Regions from separate parts of the Homo sapiens genome. Here region 2 is linked to region 1. A link means that fine-mapping ties the variant in region 1 to the expression of a gene that starts in the linked region. Tissue or cell type: whole blood. Region 1 holds a variant in brackets; the other region holds the start of a gene. All regions are shown on one strand. Distances are between the middles of the regions.

Region 1 (15,687 bases):
CCAGCAGGCCAGGGCTGACACACCCATTACTCCCCTATGGAAAGAGATGTGTCAAAAAACTCAGGGCAGCAGCAAGAAAGAGGCAGAGAAGAAGGAGTTGGGAGAGGATGGGTTTTTGTAGGTCCACCCAGTTTTTTTCCTTCCTCATCTTCCTCTGAGGGCAGCAGCAGCAGCAGGCTAAGGTTTGGATTTGTGGTTATAATGCTGTGTGACAGGATCATGGGGAGTTGTCTGGAAACATTTCTCCTGGGAGTGTGCTGTCAGCTCGTTTTCATAGTGCACATGAAGGGAAACATTCTGCTCTATACACATGCCTTTATCCTTATATAGGTACAGGTGATGTCTACATTTTCCTTTGGGATGGATGTGGCCTACCTAGGCTAAGATCACGCTATGACATTTAGTCTCTTTGGAGAGCAAGTCTGTGTTGATTCCAGCAGGATGGGGCAGCAGGGGCTGGTTGCTAGGATGTCTGAAAACAGAGGATACTACTGGAGTGGAGGAGTGGAAGCAGCCCAGCAGGCCCACTGGTAGCCGTGAGTGTGAGGATAGCTTATCGGTAGCGGCAGGCCAAAGCATTGACATTCTTGACCACATAAAAGCCCATGGTGACTGGAGGGATGACCAATGTCCGGCCGGCCCGAAGGGGGCGGGGCTTCAATTCTGGGAGGGTCCCGTCGTCCACCATCACTAAGGGCTGGCCATTCAGTTGCACTGACCTACAGTGAGGAAAAACAGTATGGGACTCATTATTGCATTATAAGGGAGCCACTGCAACAAAGCCTAGCCCCAGATGGCCTGGCAGTGTCTGATACACACACACAGCTGACACTTATTGTTACTGGCTATGCCCTAGATTCTGACCTAGGTGCTTTACTTTAATAACTCATTCAAACATCCCAACAACCCCCCCACTCCCCTGAGGTAAGTAACTATTAATATCATTATCCCCATTTTATCTAGAGTGGCTAGGTGACTTGTCCCAAGTCACACAGCTTGGAGGTCCAGGGTTTGAACCCAGGTAGTCTACCTCCATAGACACATTTAGACAAGTGAAAAGTCTGTGATGCAGAAGCTGGAATGTTTCATTCCTATTTTTTAAAAATCACAATATCAGCTCAGTTTGACTTTTCCACCTAAAGAGTTTTTACCTGTGGAATGATACATGGGCTTAAGATGACTTCAGAAATCTATTTAACTCATATCTCATTAATTTACTTGACAGATTAGATAACTGACATTACCTTGCTTGTCTAAGGTTATACGGAAGGGAGACAGAGACATAGGTAACACCTCTACTTTTTCTAATTTAAGAATGAGTTTTGGCTGGGTGCAGTGGCTCATGCCTATAATCTCAGCATTTTGGGAGGCTGAAGAGGGAGGATCGCTTGAGTCCAGGAGTTTGAGACTAGCCTGAGCAACATAGCGAGACCCCATTTCTACAAACAATATAAAAGCAAAATTAGCCTGGCATGGTGGCTACTCAGGAGTTTGAAGTGGGAAGATCACTTGAGCCTGGGAGGTTGAGGCTGCAGTGAGCCAAGATTACACCACTATACTCCATCCTGGGTGACAGAGAAACTCTGTCCCTAAAAAAAACAAAAAATGAGTTTTCATATTTAATATTAACAGATGTTTCCATTTAGCAAAACAGCAAAGTAAGTGATAAAGTAGGCATTTGTGATCACAATTCATCTATCTTGCTTTTATCCTTTCTGTATAGCCAGCCACTTTCACCCTGAGAAGGGGGACTACATACATAGCAAACTTAGAAAAGAGAAACAGCTCATCTTATGCTGGATAGAGGGAAATGCCACCTATCCTTGACCTATGGTACCAGAATCCAGATAATGTTCCAGCTGTTCCTGACAGCCATGCACCCAGGTGGAAGCTTAGTTTTATGGGTCAGCAGAAAAGGCCAGAAACAGGCCACCAGCTGGAAATAAGGTTGTGAGTCACCCTCAGAAAATCAACATTGCATAGTGATGACTGTTTCTGGGCCTTGCCCAACCTCCAGTGTGATAACATTGCCGTGACATCATCTGAGCTGTAAAGAGAATAGAATGTTATAAATTGATATAGAGGTCTTTGTTTAGTGTTCCTTCTGTGCTATGAATGATAGACTGCTTTAGAGAGAGATAATCAGACCCATGCCCAATAGAGCAGTGAATTCCCAGAGATAAGTGTGTTGTAAATTGCTCCCAATGGAGAGCTAGGCAGAGAAGAGATCCAGGCCTGGCCCCACATGGGTAAGTTTGGGCTAGGTCCAGATCTGATAGGCCAGAGGGAGCAGGCCCCCTCCCTTTGCTAGAATGACTGAGTGAATAAGTGAGTAGGAGGCTTCTATATGGAGAGCGAGGCCTGCCTCTGGAAGGCATGGGGTGGGAGAATTGAGATCTGAAGGTCAGTGTTGACCGCATCAGATATGCAAGGAGCTTTTGCTTCCAAATATGAGAAGTGACCCTCTGTAGTGAAGACAGCCTACTCATTGGAGTGGAAGGCAGGGTGAGGAGAGTGGTTCAGTTACAAAAGAAGCCCAGATGGGTCTTCACAGTGTATTTTCATTATTTTGTTTCAGGTGCTATGAATATCTATCACCCAGATATAAGCACAGTCAAACACGAGTTCAATAATACCGATTAATCTTTCTAAGGCATACTCAAATTTATATCAGGTCTCTGCTAGAAAACCTTCAATGGTTTCTCCCATATACAGAATTAGGTGCAAACCTTTCTTCTGAAGAATTAGGTAATGCCCTTTTAGATTCAGATGATCCCACAGTATTGACATCTTTGGGTTCTGGGGAGTGCAAAACAACGTGTGATTAGCAAACCTTTAAAAATCTATACTAATAAGGAGTAGTTGTCCTGGAACAGGCCCTATTCTGGTTTCTTTATTGGTTGGTTAAAAAGCTAAGAGTAGAACCAGGAAGCATGGTGAAGATTCTCTACTGAAATCTCGAATTCCAGGAGCCAAGTTGCTAACTAGCTAGATGGCTTTGGCAAATCCCCTAACCTCACTGCCCTGTAGCTTTTGCATCTGTAAGAACGTTATATAGGCACCAAAGAAATGAAATAAGAAATATGAAAGTGCTTTGAAAGCATAATGAACCATATACTTAAGATATGGTGTTTTTGTTGTTGTTGTTCTTTTTATTTTTATTTATTTATTTTTTTGAGATGGAGTCTCGATCTGTTGCCCAGGCTGCAGTGCAGTGGTGCATTCTTGGCTCACTGCAACCTCTGCCTCCTGGGTTCAAATGATTCTCCTGCCTCATCCTCCCGAGTAGCTGGGACTACAGGCATGTGCCACCACACCTGGCTAATTTTCGTATTTTTAGTAGAGACGGGGTTTCACCATGTTGGCCAGGCTGGTCTCGAACTCCTGACCTCAAGCGATCCACCTGCCTTGGCCTCCCAAAATGCTGGGATTACAGGCATGAGCCACCGTGTCTGACCTGTTGTTGCTATTGTTTTTAATGTCACTGTGGACAGATGCACTTGTTGGTCCTTATCATACCTGACTGCTCTGTGGTACTCACATTTTCAGGTCTCCATTCTCAAAACCCTCTCTCCCCTTGGCTCCCATGATATTTCTCTCTGTTTTCCTCCATTTCTGGATGGCGTTTTGTTTTCGTTTTTGTTTTTGTTTTTTTGAGAGGGAGCCATTCCCCTCTGCCTGCTTCTCAGATGCTAGGGTTCCTAGTGTTTTGTCCCTGGACTCTTCTGTCCCCACACTCTGCACTCCTCCCAGGTTGCTGCTGCTCTCACCCTTGACTTCGGTCACTATCCACAAGCTGATGCTCCCTAAGCTTGTATCTCTACCCTACCTACATTCTTTCTATGAACTTCTGTATCTCCACTTGGCTGTCCACAGGAATTTCAAAGTCACTAGGTCCAAATTCAAAATCTTCTCCTCAAACTCTGTCCTTATCTCTGCTTTTTTTTTTTTTTTATCTTTGTGATGGTACCGCCATTTATCCAATTACTGTACCCAGAAAGCTTGGAGTCTTCTGAGACTTCTCCCCCAATTCCCTTGTGTAGGGTAGCCAAGTCAAAATAATTCGACCTTATAGTGTTTTTCAAATCTGCTCCTTTTCCTCCATCCACTGCTATCTTTTTAGTTCAGAACTTGCCTCCTAACCTATCTCTGTGCCACATTGCTGACAGTTATCTGTTGTCACTGCACCGCTTCAAACTTGCCAACACTCCCCTTCCCTTACACTTTATTGTGAACAATGACACCCAGCTCCAGCTACCTCTCCAGTCTCAGATCCCGCCAGTCCCCCCTCCAACGCTCACTGTGGATCGCAGACCTCTGGGAGTGGGCATTGGTAGGGGGTTGCCAGTTATTGTAAGAATTTCATTAATATATGCATACACAAAGATGACGAATGAAAAAATAATGTCTTTCACAGAGATGAGGTAAATATTTCTCAATGAAAATGTAAGTAGATATTGTTGGGATTGAAATACACAAGTTAATTCAAAAGTATAGTAGGCTGGGTGTGGTGGCTCATGCCTGTAATCCCAGCACTTTGGGAGGCTGAGGCAGGAGGATCACTTGAGTCCAGGAATTTGAGACCAGCCTGGGCAACATAGTGAGACCCCCATCTCTACAAAAAAATAAACAAAATTAGATGGGTGTGGTGGCACATGCCTGTAGTCCCAACTACTTGGGAGGCTGAGGTGGGAGGATTGCTTGAGCCCAGGACATTGAGACTGCAGTAAGCTGAGACTGTGCCACTACACACCAGTCTGGGTGACACAGTGAGACCCTGTCTCCAAAATAACAAAAAGGTAGAAAACATTTTTCAGGCCGAGTGCGGTGGTTCACGCCTGTAATCCCAGCACTTTGGGAGGCCAAGGTGGGTGGATCACGAGGTCAGGAGTTTGAGACCAGCCAGACCAACATGGTGAAACCCTGTCTCTACTAAAAATACAAAAATTAGCCAGGTGTGGTGGCGCACACCTGTAATCCCAGCTACTCAGGAGGCTGATGCAGAAGAATTGCTTGAATCCGGGATGCAGAGGTTGCAGTGAGCCAGACTGCACCACTGCACTCCAGCCTGGGCAACAGTGCGAGACTCTGTCTCAAAAAAACACAAAAAAAGAAAGAAAATATTTTTCAAAAGTAAATGCTAGTCAGCAGTTTTGGGATTAAAACATAAGTTCATTTAAAACTGTTCTTCAATTCCCAATAGATTTTTTTTGGGGGAGGGAGGTATCATGTACTTTTTAAGGAATAGATTTTGAAAGGACAATTACTATAATGTGGAAGACCGTGACATTTGTTGACATTTAAAAGGAACCCACATGCTTGAAGAGGCCAAGCCCCCGTGCCCTAGCATGACCAAATAAAATGACTTGCAGTTTTGCTTCCGAGTCATATCATTCTGTGCGGTGCTCCCTCCAGCTGTCTTCCTCTGCCAGACTAACTGCAATGGATCCTTGCAGCGTCTGTGTAGGTGTTGCCTCCTCTGGAGAACCTTCTCTGACCCCTAGGTTGGGTTTGGAGCCCCACTTCTGGACTCTCTTAGCACCCAAAGTTATTTCTAACTGTGGCCCTTATTGTAGTGAGTTACTTGTTTGATCCCTCACTGGGCTATGAATCCTCAATGCCTAAAGAGGTGCTTGGCACAGAGTAGGGGCTAAATATTTTCTGAGCAAGTGAATGGGCTTTTGAGGCTCTTTTGCATTATTTCTGATCTTCCTGGATTGAGTTTCTCCAGCTCTAAAGAGGCTCCCTGGAGGTTTGCTGAGTGTGTTTACAGATTTCATTAATGCGCCAATTACTATTGCTCTTGTTGGCTTGTGGAGATGTTAGATAAGATCTGAATTATCACTGATTCTCTCAGCCACTCACTAGATACCTCATTCCAACCTGACATAAGACCATTGATCATTGCTAGTGTTTTCCATCCTTAAAAAAGATCTATGCGACCATCTCTTAGCTAAGTGAGCATAAGTTAATTTTGTGAATAAGGTTTTGTGAGACCTTGAGTCCTCATACATCCTTATCCACAAAGTCCCTTCATTATAAAGATGGGCCATGTGCTTTATCACTTCCATTCTATTCTTCCTGCCTATATTTTTCTTTTAATATTTATCTTGTTACCCAGCAGTCATATCATGCTAAATATAACAATAATCTTTCATTTAGATACATTGAACAGCTTGTAAGCTTGTAAACATAATCACATTAATGATAAAATTCACCAATTATGCAGCACTATTTATGCAAAAGGCACTATGCTATGATTTATTTTGACTATCTCATTTAGTCCTTACAACAATTGAGGCAGGTGTTAGCATTCCTGTATTACAGATGAGCAAATCAAAGTTTAGAGGGGTCTAAAACTCACCTAAGCCATACAGCCAATGAGTGGTAGAGCTGAGATTTGCACTGACGCCCTTAACCATAGCCCTATCTGGCCTCCCTTGTCACATGTGATTGCTAAAGAGCCCCAGGAGATACATAGGCCAGTATTACTATTATTGTAACTTTACTATGGGGACAAGGTTAGACAGGTTAAGTGGTCTGGGCAAGGTCATGTGGCTAATAAGTGGCTAAGCTAGGTCTCAAATTCTGGCTTCCTGACCACCTCTTTCTACTATTTCATGTTGTTTCTCCAATTCCAGCTGGTGTTCACCAGGATTATGTTTCTTTCTTTGAAAACCGTCCTTATCATATTTTCATCATATTCTGAGACCTCCTAAATGGCTCGTGACTTTTTAAATCAAATGCTGAATGATCCAGCCTAGGTTGAACTATTTCTCTTAATTCCCTAGCTTGCCTGAACTGCTGAGGGTATTTAAATTATCCAAATATTAGGACAACTGCATTTTATCACCATCTGTTTTTACAAAGTCTGAGTTATTTTCCAATCCCTACACTTGTTTTATTAATTTTGAATGTTATTTAAAATGGGATTCAAAGTGTCAGTTTGGAGTCAAGCCCTCTGCTCCCCAGGTCTCCATGGGAGCCCCTTGGCCTGGTCACTCCCCCGCTACCCTCCGCCCACCTGTCTACAGTCTCTGGTCTTCATGTCTTATCACTGTTCTCGATAGCCATGGATATTTAAGCAAGGTTTCAACTGTTCTGAGGTGTCAGGGAAGTAAGTCAGGGAGCATGTCCTTTTTAAAGCTTGAAGATAATTTTCTGGACTACAGTCTGGCAAGAGGGGATCTTTAGTGGGGAATTATGTGTTTTATCAGGAGCAGCCTTGGGAGCTGGTGTGTAGTTCAGGCTGGCATAGCATATTTTGGGGCCTTGAGTGGGAGGTGAAGGGACTTAAAGAAAATTGGTTCTGGCCAGGTGCGGTGGCTCACGCCTGTAATCCCAGCACTTTGGGAGGCCGAGGCAGGCGGATCACAAAGTCAGGAGTTCGAGACCAGCCTGGTCAACATGGTGAAACCCTGGCTCTACTAAAAATACAAAAATTAACGGGCGTGGTGGTAGGTGCCTGTAATCCCAGCTACTCAGGAGGCTGAGGCAGGAGAATCGCTTGAACTCGGGAGGTGGAGGTTGCAGTGAGCCGAGATTGCACCACTGCACTCCAGCATAGGTGACAGAGTGAGACTCCGTCTCAAAAAAAAAAAAAAAAAGAAAAGAAAATCAGTTCTGCCTCACCCACCTTCAGAACATTTGCCTTCTCTGAGACTAGTTTCTCCATCTGTAAGGTGAGGGGTGATAGATCAGATGAACCCTAAGATCCCTTCTGGCTTAACCGTTTTTCAGTTGGGTTGCCTATGACTAACAGCTAGCCTAAGGCAAAGTTTTATGCCAAGCCCAGAGTGATCCTGCATAAACAGAAATCTGACCATGATATTGACCTGTCTAAATATTCAGTGGCTTCCCGCTGATCTTAGAACATTGTCTGAAGTCCCCATGCACAGGCCCTATTATCTACTTCTCCAA[C/T]CGCCAAGAGGCTCACTCTAGCTCCCGCCCCTTCCAGCTCCCTTCCACCCCCACCTCCTTTCATTCTTTACGGCCATTTATCTAATCGCGGCCTAAGCACAGGGGTTTTGCACACGGTTTCCTTCTACCCGGACCTTTCTCCATATGCCCTCCTCCTCCCTTCCAGCTTCCTTCTCCTGGCTAACTCTTACTTGTCCTTCAAGTCAGGGGTGCTCCCACAGGACCCAGTACTTCTTGGATCTCAGCTCCTGTCACACAGTATTGTGACCGCTGAGCTGACTGCTTGTCAGTCTCTCCACTAGATTGGAAGCCCATGTGTCTTACTCATCCGTCACTCTTCTGTCCGCCCACTCACACAGGAGGCGTCAATAAAAGACACATTGGATATAAACACGTGGGCAAAAGAACTACTACCTAGAAGGAAAGACTCTGGACAGGAAGGCCAGAAACCCGTTTTAGTCCAGGCTTGGGACATGAAATGTGCAGGTCTAGGTATGTGACCAGCCGCTTCTGGTCTCAGTTTCTGGATTGTTAAATGATGAGAGAGAGGGAGAGAGGGAAGGGGGAGAGAAAGGAGGAGGGGCAGGGGAGAGATAAGTCCGACTGTGTGTTTGTATGGGCCTGCGCTTGAGTTATCAGCTCCCTTTCCTCCAGTGTGCTTTCCTAGGGGCCACTAGAGGTCACTCTTGTCCTACACAATGGTGCCAGGACAGTCTGACTTCGGGGTGGCACCCAGGAAGCCGGAATGCGTCCGCCTGCCTCCAAATCCCGCACTCCAGTCTCAGGAAGGCCGGGAGATGTGCCCTGCGCTTGGCCTCCCGGAGGAACAAATCACAGAATCAATCAAATCCCAACCAGAACTTCGTTGCGGTCCCGTTGGCAAGGGTCCCACCTGGAATGTGGCCTAATATTAAGGAAACGTGCGAAACGGGACTGCAATTCCTGCAGGGGTGCCGGCTTCCCGGCCAGCGTGCAGAGAACGGGGGGTCCCAGGGCAGGTGCGGGGTCTGCGGCGCCCGCCACGACTCGGCGCTGGGCTCTCCCGGGCTCCGGGTCCCCGGCTGCCCCCGGCCGCCAGTCGGGTCGGCCCCGCACCTGTTTGTGCTTTGCAGGCTCCCGGCCCCCTCGCTGAGCGAGGAAGCTGGTATGTGCAGCTGCCCTGCCCTTCTCCAGGTCAGGGGCAGGTTAGAGTCCCGAGGAGGCCCAGTCAGGTTTGAGGACAGAGGGGCTTTGCTTCCCTTTCCTGCTCGGTGGGGAGACGGTGCATCTGGGGCAGCTTGAACAGGAAGTTCGTCTGAAATTGCCTTGAGTGATGGCTACCACGCTGAGGAAGGCTGCTCAGAAGTGGCCCCTGCAGGTGGTGTCGCCTGGTACCCCATGTCCGGCTGGAGGAAAGGCTCTAAGACCGTCATGACCCTCTCTGGGGTGCTCCCACTCCTCAGGAGTCACGGGGGCAATTACTTCAAGTGTGTCCTGAACTTTTCTTCTATGTGCTTTTTGCTCTACCTGGAATCCGGTGGAATCTCTCAAAAGCCTGTTCTTCCCTCCAGGCCCTGTCAGAGGTAGCCTCCTGCTTGGGACCTCACCTGATAACAAGCTGGGAGAGCGGCACATTATCTGCATCTCCCTTTTAGCGTCCCTCTCAGGCTTATTTTATCTGTGTGCTTGGGTCATTTTGTCTGCTACTGACTTTTCATTTCTCAATTTTCAATAGTATGCGGCTCAGTGCCTTTTTGTCCATGATAGCTGTTTAGTTAATACTTGTTGAGTTCTGCTCAATCAACTGCTCTAGGAGTCATGCCTGGCTGTATGTTCCAATCTCTTCCTCTACTGTTGTTAACAGAGAGGACTGTAAGGGATAGAGAGAGAAAATGGGGAAAATAGTATCCTGTTCCCTTGCCCTTCCAACAGCCCATACCCTATTTGGAGTTCCTTGTCCCTAAGACATTTTGAGGCTGAGAAGTTTATTTGCCCTCCATCCTACCCTCTGAGGGACACGCTGAAATGGTGAGCAGTTTTGATCTAGCTTCTGTATCACTGACCAGAGAAAATACCAGGACCCTTTATACAAGGAGAGCTGGGGGTTTTGTAGGCAAGTTGTTAGGGATATAGGCTTTTCCTGGATGTAGTGTGGTTTGGGGGTCAGGATTTGATCTGTATTCTATCCAAGTCTGTGTAATAGTGATCCAATCCATAATGGACTCTACCATGTGCTTCTAATGGCTTAAAATAATTTAGCACACTTGGCAGACAAGATGAGAGCCTGACTAAGGAACCTGGATTTATACTGATATTGTTAACTCCCAGCAGATGAGGGAATCATCTGGGGGAAGTTTGGAAAGAAAATCTGATCCTGCAGCCATCTCAAAGCTCCATGTCATAGGCATATCACACTCAAACCACAGGACACAATAGGAACCAGCTATAAAAACCATGGAGACTTCAGCATGTGGTTAACTATGTCCCCCTACCACTGTAAAGAATTGGTGCCATCATCATCAACATTTACAAGTAGTGTTTAAGGGGCATTATTCATAGTTCCATCGTTCTTTTCATTGTACCAATTAAATTACAATAGACTTACTCCTTGTCTTCTAAGAAAACACTGAAATATGCAAATGTCTGAGCAGACACACCATATAAAGATATTACACAAAGAGCAGGAAGGGAGGAAAATCAGACTTAGCCTGGATTTCAAGGCCTTCTGCAGTCTGGGCTTATTATGTGTTTGTGGCCTTTCCCTTTGCCCCACAAAGCATCCTGTATTCCAGTCACATGAGATGATTTGCCACCTCCCAAACAAAATGAGCCTTGAACTTCTGTACTTCCAAACCCTTAGTGATCTCATCCTGTTGCTGGAAGTTGCCTTTCCTACAGCCTTTCCTAGAAGTATGGCACATCCTTCCAGCTCCAGCTCCACGGCCTTCAGCCCTGAGACTTTTCAGATTCCCAAGTCAGAATTCATCTCTCTCTTTCTCATAATCCCATCTCCTATATTTACCCTTAGGTGGTCTGTTTTGTCTCTGAGTTACGGTAGCCTCTGTGGAGAGGGACCAGGTTTCCCCAGTCCTAATTGTGTGGAGCTGGAGGAGAGAATGTGGGGCTACAAAGCATCCCCTTTACAGCAGTCTACAGGTGGAGTGAAGACAGGTAGGAAGGCAGGTGTGTGTGTGTGTGTGTGTGTGTATGCACACATGTTAACACACGTTTTAAACATAACATGTTTAGTTATGTTTAACACACATGTTAAGGTGATAAATACCTGTTTTATTAACTTTTGACAAAGTATTCCCCATGACATCAGGTGTACTGGTATAATCTCAAAAGGGAAAAAAGATGTCTCAGGTGGTACAGGCTCTGTTCCAGATCCCACAGATATCCAAGTGCAAAGTGTGGGGTGACTCTGAATCATTGTTGCAAGGGTAAGCAGGGAAGGCTAGTCTGCACGGGTATTGCTGGTGTTTGGCAGTGGGTCCACAGTTTAATGCTCCAGGCCCCTTGTCTGGAATGAGCCCACATCCTGCCCTGGGCTTCCTGATGCTTAGCAGCCAAAGAAACACCAATTCAGGGCCCAGGCCCCACTATAGGGATAAGCTGGATTAGAACTTTCAGTTCCTTAAGGCTTACATTTCTTCATCACAGCCTCTGGAAGGTGCAGGGGAAGAAGAAGACGAGGGCCATTTCTTCTCAGTCAGCCAGAACTGCCCACATATTCTGCTGCTCTCTCACTTTAGAATCAACTGTTTAGAAATATGTTAGCTCTACCCTAACTTGCCCATTTACAGGTGTTTCGTCTAGGTCATCTGGGACAGAATGGAAATCCCTGCCTACAACGAGGGTCCCTAAGTGAGTGGAGGTGAAGAGGGGATACCACAGCCTTAATGGACAGCTACGCAGAGAGTTTCCAGCTGCTGGGAGTGAACTGGAGGAAAATATATTCTGGATCTGAGAACAAACAAAAAACTCTCGGAAAATAACAGTGAAAAGCCTAGATTCCTAAACATCTTGGTTTAAAATGTCAAGTCGCTGTAAAACATAAAAGCATTTCATAATCCTCTAATCGGCACAGTGATCTCCACATTAGTAATCTGGGAGTTAAAACAAAACAAACAATAAAACCTTTGAGAAGCCAGCACTCATCCTTCCACTCAGTCACAGAGAACTCCCAGGGGCTCATGGCATGTTCACACCTTTGGCAAAATGGCATAGCGCCTGAATGAAGAATCTAATCTGGGAAAAATCGAAGATACAAATCATCTGGGATCTTGTTCTAGAAGTTTATAGTGGGACAGTGGTTCTCAACCTTGACCACATATTTGAATCACCTGGGGAGCTTTAACAAATACTGGTGCCTTGGTCCCAACCCAAAGATTTTGGTTTAATTGGCTGGGGTGTGGCTTGGGCATTGGGGTTTCTAAAGCTCCCCAGGTAGTTGGAAGTGCAGCCAAGGTTGAACACCACGGGTAGAAGAAGGGGCGGGGATATGTTTGTAGCTGGGGGTGGAGGGGACTCAGATATCTTTCTAACTGTTACATTCTGAATTTATTTCGAATAAAAAGAGATTTTCTTACTTTTTGAGTGCCATGTCAGGAGGCTACATTTTTTTTTAACCTAAAAGGAAGATATGAACTTTCCAAAGACAAGTTTTTTGCTCCATAGACTGAAGGGAGCATTTTTGCTGTTTCACTGGAACTGCTTCGCTGGATGTCTTGCCCCCTCCCGCTTGTACCTTGGTGGGATGATTATGCTCCTCGGTGTGTACCAGGGATGTTCATGTGTAGCACTTTACAGGATGACTTAGGAAACAAATCAGATGAAGCATCAGCGCTGATAGCCAACTCTGTGTTTCTTGAACACTGAAAAGAACAACTTTTTTCTTTTCTTGAAAGTCAGTTTCTATAAAATCATTCAGATTTCTCTCAAGTTCTAGACTGTGTTGCAGAGAGCTCCTTATAGACAAAGAGTGGTTCAAATTCTCTTCAGGCAAGAGGAACTAAGGGAATGAAGAATGTGTCATTCAGTATCCTCACTGTTGTTTTCAGGTATGTATATACTTATTTATGTAGCTAACATTGGTTATAGCTACTATCTCTTAAATTAGCAGAAGGGCTAAAAGAATCCAAACTCCTCTGGGTTTCAATGAGTAAGCTTGCATTAACAAGATTTGTGAGGCTCATTTCTCTACATATTTACTTCTCTTTCTTTTTTTCTATATACTGCCTCAGAACCTTAAGTATAAGTATTTTTATAAATATATATATATACTCTTACATATATATTTATATTTCCGCTTTTTACAGTGTCTATTTCGGCCTTTCTGAACTGGGGCACTAACCTGAATGCTAGTGTTTAGAGTAAGTACCACTTTCCTGTTAACTCACAGCCAGCTCGTAAATCTCCCTGATCCCAGGCACTTTCTTGCCATTCGGTGCTCTCAGCCTCTGCAGCTTGTCTTTCCTGCTGAGGGGCTCTGAATGGCCTTTCAAAAGGGCTGCAGCTGATGTGGTTGATCTGCACCAGGGGGGCCTTTTGCTCCAGGTCAAAGATGTCTGATTCTAAGTCTTGCTTTGTAAAAAATTATCCTATTTTTTCCTGATATTTTAACATCTGAAGCCCTGCAGGGGTTAACAGCTTTCCTCACATGGTCTTAGCCTGAACGTTATAGGCACTGAGGCTCCTTACCTTTCACCATGCATCAAAACAGATTCCGAGTGAATCAAAGAAATGAATACAAGTGAAACAAAAAAGAATCTGGAAGAAAATAAAGATGCATATTGATCTGATTTCAAGAATGTAAATTCATACACATATAAGTAGAATGGAAGAAAGGTAAACATATTTAACTATATAAAAGGGAATATTTCTGTATGTCAAGATAATACTCTAATAGTTAGAAAAATAGCAAATAAAATACTAGAGAAAATATTTCAATACATAGATAGCAATGGAGGAAATTGCCTTATACCTGTATTAGAGCAAACTTAATAAAACAGACTAATACCCCAACAGAAAAATAGCAAAGGACATAGAAAATTCATAAAAGCAATACAATACTAACATATGAAAAATCTTCAGGCTCATTAATGCTCAAAGAATAGAAATTAACATAAGAATACTTTTTTTATTATGGAGTTGGCAAAGATGTAAAAAATGTTACTATATTGTGTTAGTGAGGTGAATTGTAATAACAAAATGTTCATATTTCCTCCTCCATCTCAGACCTCTTCAACTAAGTTTGGATGAGGTAAGAAAATTGAAAGGTGGTCAGGCGCGGTGGCTCATGTCTATAGTCCTAGCACTCTGGGAGGCCGAGATGGGTGGATCACCTGAGGTCAGGAGTTTGAGACCAGCCTGACCAACATGGTGAAACCCCGTCTCTACTAAAAATACAAAAATTAGCCAGTTTTGGTGACACGCACCTGTAGTCCCAGCTACTCAGGAGGCTGAGGCAGGAGAATCCCTTGAACCAGGGAGGTGGAGGTTGCAGTGAGCCGAGATTGCACCACTGCGCTCCAGCCTGGGTGACAGAGTGAGACTCTGTCTCAAAAAAAAAAAAAAAAAAAAGAAGGCAGAAAAAGAGAAAGAGAGAGAGAGAAAGAAAGAAAGAGAGGAAGAGAAAATTGAAAGGTTAATCCTGTGAGATAAAATTCTAAAACTCAGTGGATTCTAAGGTGAGCAATCTGAACACCAGGTCATTTGAGGAATGGTTGAAGGATCTGAGAGTGTTTAGCTTGGAGACTAGAGCTTTTAGGGTAGATATATAGAAAAATTGATAAAGAAGAAGATATAGATTTTCTCTTCTTACTTTTTCCAAAGCAAGAGTAGAAAGGGCAAGAAAACACCTTTGGCCTAATACATGGAGGCTCTTTCCTACAATCAGAGCTGTCTAGTCCTAGCATGAGCCAATTCCTGAGACGAGCCATCCCATCAAACAGAAACTGAAAAGCTTTTTGTCGGGGATGTTATAGAAGAAACCTCTTGACCCGTATGAGTTCTTTGAAATTTTACCTTTATAAAGTCATCTTTTACTAACTATAGAACTTTCATAGAATGGTTTATTTTTGAAAGAAACTAATTTAAATGATCCCAGACAAGTGAAGATAATGGAAACCTGCAGGGAGTACATCTGGTTGACCAGAGTTCAAAAAATGTAGGTACCAAATAATATCAGCAGTGTAGAACTAAAATACTTAGATGTCTTGAGTCTGCTGGGATAAATGGACAAATGGCCTACTGGTCCCAGAAACAAGTCTTCATATTTTGTTTTTGAGTGTCTGAGTCGTGGTATTGAATTAATGGGGTTAAGGTTTTTCCCAAAGCTTCTTTTACCTGATCTCTCTGTGTCCAGAAACTAAACATGGTGCTTTCAGGTATCATTAGTGAGAGATTGTGGCGGGTCAGGTGGGTGGCCAGTTCACCCCTCAGGATTTTTCACATTAGCCAAGCTCTGAATCCAGAGATGAAATATCATAATATGGTCTGGTCTGTTCCAACAGGGACACGAAGATATTTTTAAAGTCTTAGCACCTGGGAGTTACTTGAGTATTTTCAGAACCATTCTGTTTGGTTAACATCAAATGACACCTCTCTAAAGGCATGCAGTTAGATGCCAATGTTTTTCTTTGATATAGGTTTTAATGAGGGTGAAATGAAAGCAAAAGTTATATCCCAGAGAGATGGAAAAAATGAGCAGTATGTGGAAAAAGGAAAAAAAAAGATGTGCATTTCTTCACAGAATAGGCAATAAGATTTTTGGTTCATAGGAGC
Region 2 (12,760 bases), 17 kb before region 1:
TGGAACCAGACTGGCACAGGAAGGGACCCAGGTCTTGGCCTAGACATGGAGCCGAATGCCCAGGGAGGCCATGCTCACGGCAGCCAGTTAGTGCCTGGTGTGGATCGGAGGGCACTGGTGCACCTCCATCTCTGGGCAGTCCAGAGATATCTCTCCCTCAGATAAAAACAGTTCCAGGGCTGGGCGCGGTGGCTCACGCCTGTAATCCCAGCACTTTGGGAGGCCAAGGGGGGTGGATCACCTGAAGTCAGGAGTTCGAGACCAGCCTGGCCAACATGGTGAAACCCCGTCTCTACTAAAAATACAAAAATTAGCCAGGCATGGTGGCAAGTGCCTGTTATCCCAGCTACTCGGGATAACTGCTGAGGCAGGAGAATTGCTTGAACCCGGGAGGCAGAGGTTGCAGTGAGCCGAGATTACACCACTGCACTCCAGCCTGGGTGACAGAGCGAGACTCTGTCTGAAAAAACAAACAAACAAACAAACAAACAAACAAAAAACAGCTCCAGAAGATGAGCCTCAAAGCCCCTGAATTTACTTCAGCACCACAGAAGTTTCATTCAAATGCTGCTCTCCCTGTTCATGGTGAGAACAGAGGCTGCCTAAAGCCCCTGTACCTAGTAGGCTGCAGCTTCTAGGGCCACAGCCACCAGTGTCTTCAGCCCTCCCAAATCTCCTTCCCCACCCCCCCGCCACACACACACACACCACACACTCTGTGCTTGATTATGTAAGAAATGTCTTAACTATTCACCCACTGGAAGATCTTTAATACAGCTTCCCACACTGTGTGCCATGGCCCTCTGCGTGCGGCAAACCCTCGATCTTCTAAAACTTGGGGCAGCCTGACCAGGCTGGTGAGGACAGTGCTCCAGGCTGGCTGCTGCAGCTAAGAGGCCTCAGGCAGTGGTTTCAAATCCTCTTATGTGCCTCAGGGTGTCACGCAGATATAATCATGTGGTATGTGCGCTAAGCCATGACAATGATTAGGAAGCTCTGCTGTAACTCTCACACAAGTGGATTTCCAGTTTTCTTGGGAGGATCACAGCATCTCCAGGTCTTGTGTTCCGTCATCCCCATGTCCAGCTTAGTGGTCCTTACTGAATTCCTCCCAAACTAACTTGGTGCAACTGGTCCCAAGGTATTTATGGCAAATGCCAGGAGACATAACAGCACAGTGAAGAAGGAATGCAGCCTATTCCCACAGAATTACTCAATGCCAAGGCAGACACTGAGAGTGCAACAGGTGTGAAAAGGAGGTTGCTGGGAGAGGCGGGTGGACCTGAAGAGGCTGCTCTGGGACTCCCAGGTACATGTGACAAAGCTGACCAGAGTGTATGGGTTAGGGAGCAGTGGGCTATGGAATGGAGGCTGTGGTTGTGAGCGGAGAAGTGACCGGCTGGCTGGAGATGGGCAGGTCAAGGTCATGAAGGCGGTCATCTAGGTGCGGGTGTCAGGTAATGAGTGCTCACCCCTTGGTGGGGGCTGGGAGGAGCTTTAAAGATGCAGCAGGCTGTGATGACCTGCCTGGATTCGAGGGGTGAAGGAGAGATGAGGCATCAGGATGGGGGTGGCCTCAGGATGCAGGGCTGGGGAGGGGATGAGCAGGTGTGCAGAGCCCAGTAGCACTCAGTCCACTGCCTACCTCATTCCATCTGCCTCCCAAAGCCCCAGGGTGGATGCTGCCTGCCTCCCTGTCCTCCCCAGGTGGGGCAAGATCATCTACCTTGGCAAGCACAGTGGAGCATCCAGACGGCCAGAGGTTCAGAAAGGGCTGCAGCAGACCGACTCGGTGACTGGCTCATGGGAGAGCAGCACAGCATCCCTGGTCCTGCAAATGCTTAAAACAGAGAGAATATGAGGGCAGGCAGATGCCCTGGTCTTGACTGCTGCCCGTTGAGAAAGGACAAGCTGGAGAAGGGCTGCGTGGTCCCTGGTCTCTCCAGGCCCTGAGGCAGTCTGCTAAGAACATATCTGGGATCCTGCCCCTCACCTCCCATAATGGAGAATAGGAACCCGGCCAGCACAGCCCTTTGCACAGAGCAGGTGCCCACTTTTGTTCCTTCCTCCTTTGTTCCCATGAAGTGCTCTCACTTCTGCGGGTCACTCAGAGCTCCCCAAGCAGCCCCAGGGAGCTTGCTAGGAGTGACTGACGGGAGACAGCATAGCACATCCCAGGTGGTGAGGATGCAGTCCCGGTGAAGGGAGTGGGGATCCTGGGATGATACGATGAATGGAAGGAAACTAACAGGAAAGGCATCTGGGACCAGGTTCTAGTTTTGGCTTTGCCAAGTCCCATAAACCTCTCTGAGCCTCAAACTCCTGCGGAGAAACAGAGCAACATCCCCTACTCTACCTCCCTACAGGGTTAGATCATGGGAGTGACCAGGCAAGCTGCAAAGTAACCTTAGCAAACTGCGTTCTTACATAGGTGTGGGGATCATTATTCCTATTTCCCAGCTTCCCTTCTTCAAATAACAGGATTAATCAATCTGGTTCCGGAATCATTCATATTTGAATAGAGGGCAGGAACAACAGAAAACTTAATTAGGAAGTCAAGCACTGTGAGCCAGTAAGAGGCAAGTGACTACCCGCCACAGAGACTGCTGTTACGAGTTCGGCCTTTAGCAGCCGAACCCTGAGACGGGCTCCATCACCCACATGATTGGCCCGAATGCCATATTCCCGAAACAGGGGGATGCTTCCCAAAGGCTGCTGGGAAGAGAACCTCGCCGGTGTCACACTGAGACTTCCGCTTCACCTCGCTATCTTGCCCTAGAAAGGGAACTCGGAGGGGACTCACTGACGAAAGGAGCTCCAGATGGCGGGGGGCCAACCTGGGGCGACCCCCAGCGCCCACTTTCACCATCTGGACCCCAGCAAACCTCCCTGTGGCCCTTGGTCCCGTCTTCAGCAGCTCCTTCTGGGGTCCCACACCTTCGGAGCCCGGCCCTGCCCCTGAGTCTCTGGAGAGAGCGAGTCAGCAGTTCGCCGCCGCGGGGCTCCCGTTTGCCTAGCACGCCAGTTTCTGTCCAGTTTCACCCCAAATCCCCACCTCCCCCCACCCCCGAACCTCACGGCCACCCTGGGAAGGAGGCTTGACTTGTGACATCCACCCCTCTTCACGGCTGAGGAACTTTGGCCCCGAGCGAGGAAGCGACCGGCCCACGGCCACACGCCCGGAGTGGGTGAGGCTAGGAGTGGGCCCGCTCCGGGACCCCTAGGGACCCTACCTCACTTCCGGGAGGGTTGAAGGGGGGCTCCGGAGGGAGGATCGCCGCCCCCAGAGGGGACAGCCCGGAGGCCCACGTACCGGATCGCGGCGCGCACAGCGCCCCGCCTGCAGGAGCCCGGGCGCGCTTCCGGGTAGGACCGCGTGATCGCGCACGTGACCGCCCGCCCCGGGAGGGGCCGGAGCCGCCGTCGCCTTCCGCGGGTTCGAGCCCCGCCCCTGCCAGGCCTTGCCCATGCCCCATTTTACAGAAGAGGAAACGGAGGCGCAGAGAGAAGAAATAACTTGCTGAGGGTCCGAACCAGGCTCAGAACCCAGGTTTCCTGGCTCCTCAGCTGATCCCTTCTCTCCTCCCCATGCCCCGGAACCTCAGGCTTTGCCTAATGAACTGAAGTTCTGGGGCTAGAGCTGTCCTTTTGTGACTGCTCTCCCTGACCTTTGGGGAGGTGACATAGCGCACAGAAGGGCTCAGTTGCCCCCAGAGTGCCAACGCTGGAATTTATAGGAGTTCTCAATCTATTTTGGGAGTGGAGTGCACATTAGGAGTTTTGTGTTGAACCTATGTTTGCAATATTTATTTTAAAAAATCGTATGTGTATTGGGGGTGCCTGGAAGTGGAGGGGGCGCTCTGGAAGGGCCTAAATCCCCGAACAGTCCACCCCTCAGTGCCTGGGTGCCACCTGGGAGCTTTGAGCCCAGCCCAGCAAGGTATGGGTTGCAAGAACTGGCTGGGGATATAGTAGATTGAGCATCTCTTGGGGGAAAGGCAGAGGCTAAGAATCAATACTTCCACCACCTGCAGATCAAAGAGAGCATCACTCCCCCCAACCCACTACCCACCCCTTCCAGCCCACCTTAGGGCAAATTCTTCCAACTCCCCATCTACAGCACATAGCCCTGCCACACGCATCTCTTTGCTCAGCCCACCGTTGAGATCGTTCACTCACTATGCTTTCAGTGGTCGAATGAATTCCATCAAATGGATATGCTGTTATTTACTTATTCATTCCCCTACTGGTAATTTCCATTTCCCAACTGCAATGTATGAGGATTCTGATTTCTCCACATCCTCACCAATGCTTGTTATTGTTGATTTTTTTTTTTTTAAGTATAGTAACCCAGCGTGGAGTGGTGTCTTGTGATTTTATTTGCACTTCCCTGACGTTCGGCATCTTTTCATGTGCTTTTTGCCTATTTGTGTACCTTCTCTGGAGAAATGTCTATTCAAATCCTTTATCCATTTTTAAATTGTCTTTATTATTGAGTTGTAAGAGTTCTTTATATGCTCTGGTTACAAGCCCCTTATCAGATACTTGATTTGCAAAAGTTTTTTTCCCATTATGTGGCTTGTCTTTTCACTTTCTTAGTGGTATCATTTGTAGCACCAAAGTTTTACATTTTTATGTAATCCAATATAATCTATTTTTTAGTTATGTACGGGTTTTTTGTGTCAACATGTTTCTTTTTTTCAAATTTGTTTGTGGTAAAATACATATAATGTAAAATTGATCATTAAGCATTTTAAGTGTATTGTTCAGTGGTATTAACTACATTCCTAATGCTATGCAGCCATCACCACCATCCATCTCCACAGCTCTTTTCATCTTTTAAAACTGAAACTATATCCATTAAGCAATAATGCTGGCCGGGTGTGGTGGCTCACACCTGTAATCCCAACACTTTGGGAGGTCAAGGCGGGCGGATCACAAAGTCAGGAGTTTGAGGTCACCCTAGCCAACATGGTGAAACCCTGTCTCTACTAAAAATACAAAATTAGCAGGGTGTGGTGGCACACAGCTGTAGTCCCAGTGACTCAGGAGGCTGAGTCAGGAGAATTGCTGGTACCAAGGAGGCAGAGGTTGCAGTGAGCCAAGATCATGCCACTGCACTCCAGCCTGGGCAACGGAGCGAGACTCCCATCTCAAAAACAACAACAAAAACAACAACAACAACAATTCTTCATTCCTCCTCATAGCAACCACAATGTTACTTTCTGTCTCTATGAATTTGACTACTCTAAGTACCTCATATAAGTAGAATCATACAGTATTTGTCTTTTTATGACTGGCTTATTTCACTTAGCATAATATTCTCAAGGTGCATTCATGTTGTAGCATATGTGAGAATTCCTTCCTTTTTTCTTTATTTTTAAGCCTAAATAATACTCTATAGTCTGTATATACTACATTTTGCTTATCCATTTATCTGCTGATGGACAATTGGGTTACATCCATTGTGAATAAGGCCATTATGAACATGAGTGTACAAATATCTCTTTGAGACTCTGCTTTCAATTCTTTTGGGCATATACCCAGAAGAGAAACTGCTAGATCATATGGTAATTCTATTTTTAATTTTTTAAGGAACTACCATACTGTTTTCCACAGCAGCTGCATCATTTTACATTCCCAACCTGGAACAAGTGTTCCAGTTTACCCACATCTTTGTCAACACTTGCTATTTTCTATTTTCTTTAAAATTTTTATAGTAGCCATCCTAATGGGTGTGAGGTAGTTCAACATAAGTTTATATTTCTCTTAGGTAAATATCTACTCATGGGATTGCTGGGCTGTATGGTAAGTCTGTGTTTAAATTTATATTAAACTGCTGAACCATTTTCCAAAGTGGATGTACCATTTTACATTCCTTCTAGCAACACTGAGAGGTGTAATTGCTCTGTAGTCTTGTTAGCACTTGATATTGTCCTATTTTAACTTTAGCCATTCTAGTAGGTATGTGGTAGTATGTTAAGTGTTCAAATTTTGCCTATTTAAAAATTGGATTGTTTGTCTTATTATTTATTTATGTGTTTGAATTCAAGCCCTTTATTATATTTTTTTTTCCCAGTCTGTGGCTTTGTCTTTTCATTTTCTTTACAGTGACTTTTGAAGAGCAGAAATCTTTGTGCATTTTGTGTCCTATGTAAAGTCTCTGCTTAGCCAGGGTCACAGAGATTTTCTCCTGTTTTTTCTTTTTTGCAGAAATTTAATAGTCGTAGATTTTGTCTTTAGGTTCACAATCCATTTTGAGTTAATTTTTGTGTGTGATGTGAAAGAAGGTTGAGGTTTTAGTCTTTTGTGTGTGTGTGTGTGTGTGTGTGTGTGTGTGTTTTGTATATAGATGTCCAATTTTTCTAGAACCATTTGTTGAAAAAAAATATTTTCTCAGCCAGGCGTGGTGGCTCATGCCTGTAATCCCAGCACTTTGGGAGGCTCAGGAGGGCAGATCATCTGAGGTCAGGAATTGGAGACTAGCCTGGCCAACATGGTGAAACCCCATTTCTAGTAAAAATACAAAAAAATAAATTAGCTGGGCGTGGTGGCATGCACCTGTAATCCCAGCTACTCAGGAGGCTGAGGCAGGAGAATCGCTTGAACCCAGGAGGCAGAGGTTGCAGTGAGCCAAGATCGTGCCATTGCACTCCGGCTTGGGCAACAGGAGTGAAACTCCATCTCAAATAAATAAATCAATCAATCTTTTCTCCATTGGATTAATTATCATGGCACGTTGTCTCAAATCAGTTGACCATCTGTGTGTGAATCTATTTTTGGAGTCTATGTTCAATAAATTTAAAAGGAGTTTATTGATTTTCTTAGAGGCAGTTTTTGGTTGAATCAATTTTTATTGATCCTGTTTTTAAATTCATCAGTTTCTGTTCTGATAGTTACTATTTCGTGTCTTCTGTTTACTTTGGGTTTTTTTTTCTTCTAGAAACAGAGGCCACTGATTTGAGACCTTTTGTCTTTTCTAATGGAGTTGAGTGCTGTAGATCTTCCCCAAGGTCCTGCTTTATCAGCATCCCACAACTTTTTATCTGCCATGTTTTCATTTTCAATTACTTTAAAATGCTAATTTTTCTTTTGATTTATTTAGAGTATAGTTCAGAGGTCAGCCAGATATTTGAGTGTACTTTGTACCAGCTTTTTAAGTTTCTCCCACCTGTTCCCTTTCCCTCTCCATTCAATTTTCAGCTGCTCTGGCAGTCTTGAACACCAATGTCACTCCACGGTCTAATATAATAGCTGCTTGCTGATGGACCTTGCTCTTTGTTGTGAACTAGGGGAATTCCTTCAGGAGAAAAGCCAAATAAATGTGGATATCACCCAGTGTGATTTTCTTCATTCAAGAGCTATATCTCCTGCAGTTTCTGCCTGCTCTTAGCTGTTCTGCATTGCCTTCAAAGAATTGTTTTTTCAAATTTTGTCTAAGGTTCGTAATTGTTATTGGCAAAAGGGTCAGTCTGATACAACTGTAACATTACCAGAAATTGGAAGTTCTTTCTGCATATTTTTATATGTAGTCTTTTCCATTTAGTTTAAAATATTTTCTTTTTATTGTGATTTCTGATTTTTTTCTCATGGAATATTAAGAAGTGTGTTTCTTAATTTTCAAGCACAGGGAGATTTTCTAGTTTTCTATCTCTCTATCTATCTATCTATCTATCTATCTATCTATCTATCTATCATCTATCTATAATTTCCACTTATATTCCACTGCTGTCAGAAATACATTGTATGTTATTATTCTTTGAAGTTTTTTGAAACTTTATGTCACAGTATATAACCACGTTTTATAAATATTTCGATGTGTTGTTGAAAAAGGACTTTATTCATTTGTTGTTGTAATGTTCTCCATATATCATTTAGATAAAATGTTAATTGTATTGTTTAAATCTTTTCTATTCTTTCTGATTTTTGTCTGCCTTTTCTCTCATTTTCTGAGAGAAATAGCAGTTAAAAATCTATTATAATTGCAAATTTTTCTATTTCTCCTTTTATTTCTGTTAGATTTTTGCTTCACATATAGGAGATGTCATTAGGTACATGCAGATTTATAATTATATATCTTACTGTTAAATCAAAACTTTCATCTTTATGAAATGTCCCTATCACTAGCAATGCTTTTTGGTTTTACAAAAGCATTTATTGTCTCATATAAACATAAGGACATCACCTTTTGTTGCATGGCATATCTTTTTCTTACTCCTTTTAATTTCTTATATTTTAGATATTTCTTTTGAAATAGCTTTTAATTGAACTTTCTTTTATCTTATCTGACAACCTTCATCTTTTAATCGGAGCATTTATTCCATTTACATTTAGTGCCATTACAAATAAATTTGGTTTTAAATCTATTATCTTGCTAGTTGCTTTCTGTTTGTCCTGTTCTTCATTATCTTTGTCTTCTTTCTTGCTTTCTGTTAGATGAAGCGTTTTTGTTATGATTCCACTGCCTCTCCATTCACTTAAAGAATATACTCTTTTAAGTATTCTTTCAGTGGTTACCATAGAGACTAAAACATGCATCCTTGACTTATCAAAGTTTAATGTAAATTAGTAGTTTTACCTCTTTCTTGAAAATGTAAGGATGTTAATATATCTTCCATTTACCAGCTTTCAATATGTATGGTATTATTGTAATGCATTTTTAATTATTTACCTATTTTAAATTGCAAGAGACATTGTTATTATTAGATTATATTTATTTAGAGTTTCCCACATAATTACCCTTCACGTTGCTTTTTATTCTTTCCTGCATCTCTCATTGCATTATTTTGATTGTTCATTCTTTCTCTCCCTGTCTGTCTTCATCTTTCCTTTCACTGTCTCCTCCAATTTTCTCAGCCTCCCACCACCCATGCACTTGTAGACATAGTTGAGTTCCAAGACATTAGGTGCATACGTGGTGAAATTCTACTATAATACATTTCAGTTGCTGCTGGAGCAACCCCACGTACTTGTCTTAAAGTTCAATTTAACTAATTTCTCCTATGTGAGGTCAATCTTTTCCTTTTAAAAACCTAACAAGGTGGGTATGCCTTGGGGCATGCTTAGTCTGCATTAAATATGCACTAAATCACGGCTTGGAAGAAACTGGGGTGGCAAGAGTCAAGTAATTAACTCAAAAATAAAATCAGGACACTATCCCTGAGGGTGAGAGGATCTTCAAAACGTGTTATCTGTGTTGAATTTCATGTGCATGCATTCTAGAAGGCACGTTGCATTTAGGTAGAAATAGCAACAATTTAAAGCTAACTTTGAAACTTCTCAAAAGGATGTTATCTAATATATAAGCTAACATGAGGAGGAAATAGAAAAACAATAGCACTTGGACCAGAGACCATCTGACATAACATCAGACAACAGGGAGTTTCAGGTAAACTTAGATTTCACTTAAATCCAAAGTCCTCATTTTATAGATGAGAACACTGAGGTCCAGAGAGGCTGAGTGACTTGTCTTCTGAGGTGGATAAAATCAGTGGAATAGCCTGTTGTGATCTCCAGGTGTGACTGTTCATTGGGTCTAGAGTTGGCCTCTATGATTCTCTAGTTACCTTTTAACCCACTTTGCTATTTGAGGTTTCAAATTATATTTTTGATGTTTCTGGTACAGGGGGCAGCATCTTCTACTATGTGCATCTACATTGGATGGCAGTGGAGCAACACAGATTGTTTTCTGACAAAAATCAGCCAAGTACTAGGAGAGGCAGGACTTTAGAAGTGGAGGAGATGGAGAAGGAAGCTTAGGTTACTATGGAGTGTGCAAAAAGGTCCTGTGGATTTAGATACCACCACACACAAATGGTATGTAATACTCACTTGAAGACAAATCAGCCAGAGGGATCTAACAGCATTGACCCATTCTCTGGTCTTCTAGCATCCATCATAGTTTTGTGCTCCTTTTCCATGAAACACAGCTGTTGTTGGAAGGTACCTGCCCAGATAAGGACTGCATTTCCTCTAGCATCCAGATGGGACCAAATGACTGCTGGCCAATAGAAGTGAGTGGAAAGGACTGACTCCAGTTCCAGGTTGGGCCTCCAACTGCTCTGGGCACGTCGATGGAACAGAACACCACCTCCACCCCAATACCACCAATTCAACTTTACATGAATTATAAGCGAGAAATAACTTGGACTGTGTTAAGTCATTGAGTTTCTGGGGTTTAACTGTTATTATAGTTAAGAATGACTTTAACTAATATAGTCAATGACATCTAACTGGAGTTATGAAATTCAATTTCTACTTAGAGTAATTGAAGCAAAGGTTGTGGGGGAGGGGAGGAGGGCAGCACACCATGAAATCAGAGATCCCCAGTACGTGTTAGTTCATCAGTCAATCAGTCTTAAGGTCAGGGTGTAGTGTGGGCAGCAGTTGCCTCCCTCTCCCCACAGAACACCCTGAGAATAGGAAGTTAGAGTAGTCGCATCTTATTACTTACAAAACATTACCTCAAAATGCAAACTACCCCCTGGACCCAAACTCTCTACAATCACCAGGTTCCATAAACTATAATCTACTCTGTTTTCTGGAAGAAAATATTAACCTGTTAAAATTCCCTGCACAGAGAGGAAACTTTTTCTGGGAGGTATTCCTGAACTCATTTTGCCAACTTCCAGATGAACAAAACTAAAGTTTCTTTTTGCTTCTTCCAAAAACATAAATTATCAAATAACATTTATAACTTGAAAAAGAATCCTAGAATATTTTCATGAATAATAATTAGAAGAGTAATGTTCACATGGGAAGGGCGTCTTTTCTCTGCTGTGTGCATAGGACCCTGGGACCCTGGGATTTAAGTCATATGGAACTTGGTCAACTCCTCCAAAATGCTCCCAGCGCTCACAGGGGCTGCCTTGGTGTTTGGAAGGAGGTGGTGCCAAAGCAGTTGGTTTGCTGGATTTTGACTTTCTTTTTTTAAAGTGGTATTTGCAAATACTACCCCGAGGGCAATGGTTAATGGATTTGACCTTTGGGTCATGGGGGCCAGGGAGCAGCACTCATAGAAGCTGTGTGTGTGTGTGTTGCGGGGCGGGGGCGGGCTGCTGACTGGCTCTGCCACTCACCTCTCAGGCCTTAGGAATACTGAAGATTCTCACCTACGATTGGTGGCGATGGTGGGAGTGGTCCTTAAAACTGCTTTATAGAAAATCATAGTGGAGGCCAGGCGCCGTGGCTCATGCCTGTAATCCCAGCACTTCGGGAGGCCGAGATGGGCGGACCACGAGGTCAGGAGATCAAGACCATCCTGGCTAACACGGTGAAACCCCGTCTCTACTAAAAATACAAAAAAATTAGCCGGGTGTGGTGGCTGACGCCTGTAGTCCCAGCTACTCTGAAGGCTGAGGCAGGAGAATGGCGTGAACCCAGGAGGCGGAGCTTGCAGTGAGCCGAGATCGTGCCACTGCACTCCAACCTGGGCGACAGAAGGAGACTCCGTCTCAAAAAAAAAAAAAAAAGAAAGAAAAAGAAAAAAGAAAATCATAGCGGAACAGACCAGGATGACCACTGATCGGCCAAGGTGAACCTGGACTCAAAGTTCTACAGCAAAGGCTGTCCACAACACTACTTACTACTCACTACTCACAAGAGCTTCTAGTTGGCATCCTCAAACCAGAGAGCAGTTGTACTGGGGGTAAGGCACTGCTAGGGTTCTCTGTAGGACACACATGAGATGTTAAGGAATCTAGCTGTGGGCAATACAGAGATGAGAAATAGGTGGCTACAATCAGTCAGGTGAGAGGTAGCACAGTGTAGGGATAGCAGGCTTTGAAATTTTTAACAGACCTGGGTTCAACTCCTAGTTTTGCCACACTGTTTTTCTGGGTGGTCTTGAACAAGTTCTTTCTCTAATCCTCCCCATCTATAATTGGGTCTGAACACTTACCATACCACCCAGCACTGCTGTGAGCATTCAATAAAATAGCACGTCTGATAAGAAGAAGGCACTTGATCAAGGAAGGGCAGCCACAGAAGCCTTCGTGCCATGGTTAGTGGAACTCAGAGAGAAGGGTTCTGTATGTCCCAGTTGTTTGGGCCTTATAATAATAATAAAATTCATTTTAGCACTATCTCTCTTTGGAGTACTTCTTATCTGCTTTTCAATCCTGGTATATCCTAAGAAAAGATTACAAACAATTCTAAAATGGAAACTTCACTTCAATACAGCAGATTTCCCTGGGCTCCTGGCTGGGCACAGAGTGGCTGGCAGAGGGGAGTCTGTGGACGTGGAGAGTAAGTTGGTGGAAACGAGCACTCAGCAGGGGCCAGGCTGGGGCAGTTGTGCCGATGCTGGAGAGAGGAGAAGTGGAGGAAGCCATGCTAGGTAAAGTTTATGCCCTTTCTTCTCTTGCCTTTTCCAAGCCACAGCACTATTAATTTTGGTTGCTCTATTGATATTTCAAAATGTTAGTCTTCCCTTCCCCTTGTGTTTTTATCGTCAGAGGGATCCACCTGGTTCACCTTTGCTTCTGCAGAGACTCAACACTGCCCTTTTGTTTTCAAACATAAAGCTACTCTCAATGGATTTCCAAGGTGAATCCTGCAGCTGCATCCATCCCAGACACTGGGGCCTTGAGTGCCTGTGGAGCACACCTGCAGATGCTGGGCCTCGCCATGACCACCAGAGGCTAAGTGGTTAGCACACGAGTCCTCACTGCCAGGGGGCCACAGAGACTCCCAGTGCTGACAGCAGGTGGGAGCCTCTTCAGGCAGCATCCACCAGCAACCTCTGCCCTGCTGGAGAGTG

Evidence for each region.
Region 2: HPS1 starts here. The variant in region 1 is fine-mapped to the expression of HPS1 in whole blood (INTERVAL, PIP above 0.99).

The regions. Positions count from the first base shown.
Region 1 is chr10:98,459,021-98,474,707 of GRCh38, forward strand. HPSE2 (heparanase 2 (inactive)) reads right to left here. Exons shown (of 12, transcript NM_021828.5): 12 at 1-719. The coding sequence ends at 554. Among named protein-coding and RNA genes, the nearest start is that of HPS1, 20 kb to the left of the region's middle. RefSeq lists silencers at 8,827-8,876, 8,927-9,026. The variant C/T (reference allele first, on the strand shown) is at 7,921.
Region 2 is chr10:98,443,574-98,456,333 of GRCh38, forward strand. HPS1 (HPS1 biogenesis of lysosomal organelles complex 3 subunit 1) reads right to left here and starts at 3,362. Exons shown (of 20, transcript NM_000195.5): 1 at 3,234-3,362; 2 at 1,727-1,831. HPS1-AS1 (HPS1 antisense RNA 1) reads left to right here and starts at 2,748. Exons shown (of 3, transcript NR_134454.1): 1 at 2,748-3,184; 2 at 9,626-9,816; 3 at 9,930-10,232. RefSeq lists a silencer at 3,180-3,529 and enhancers at 9,775-10,276, 12,167-12,706.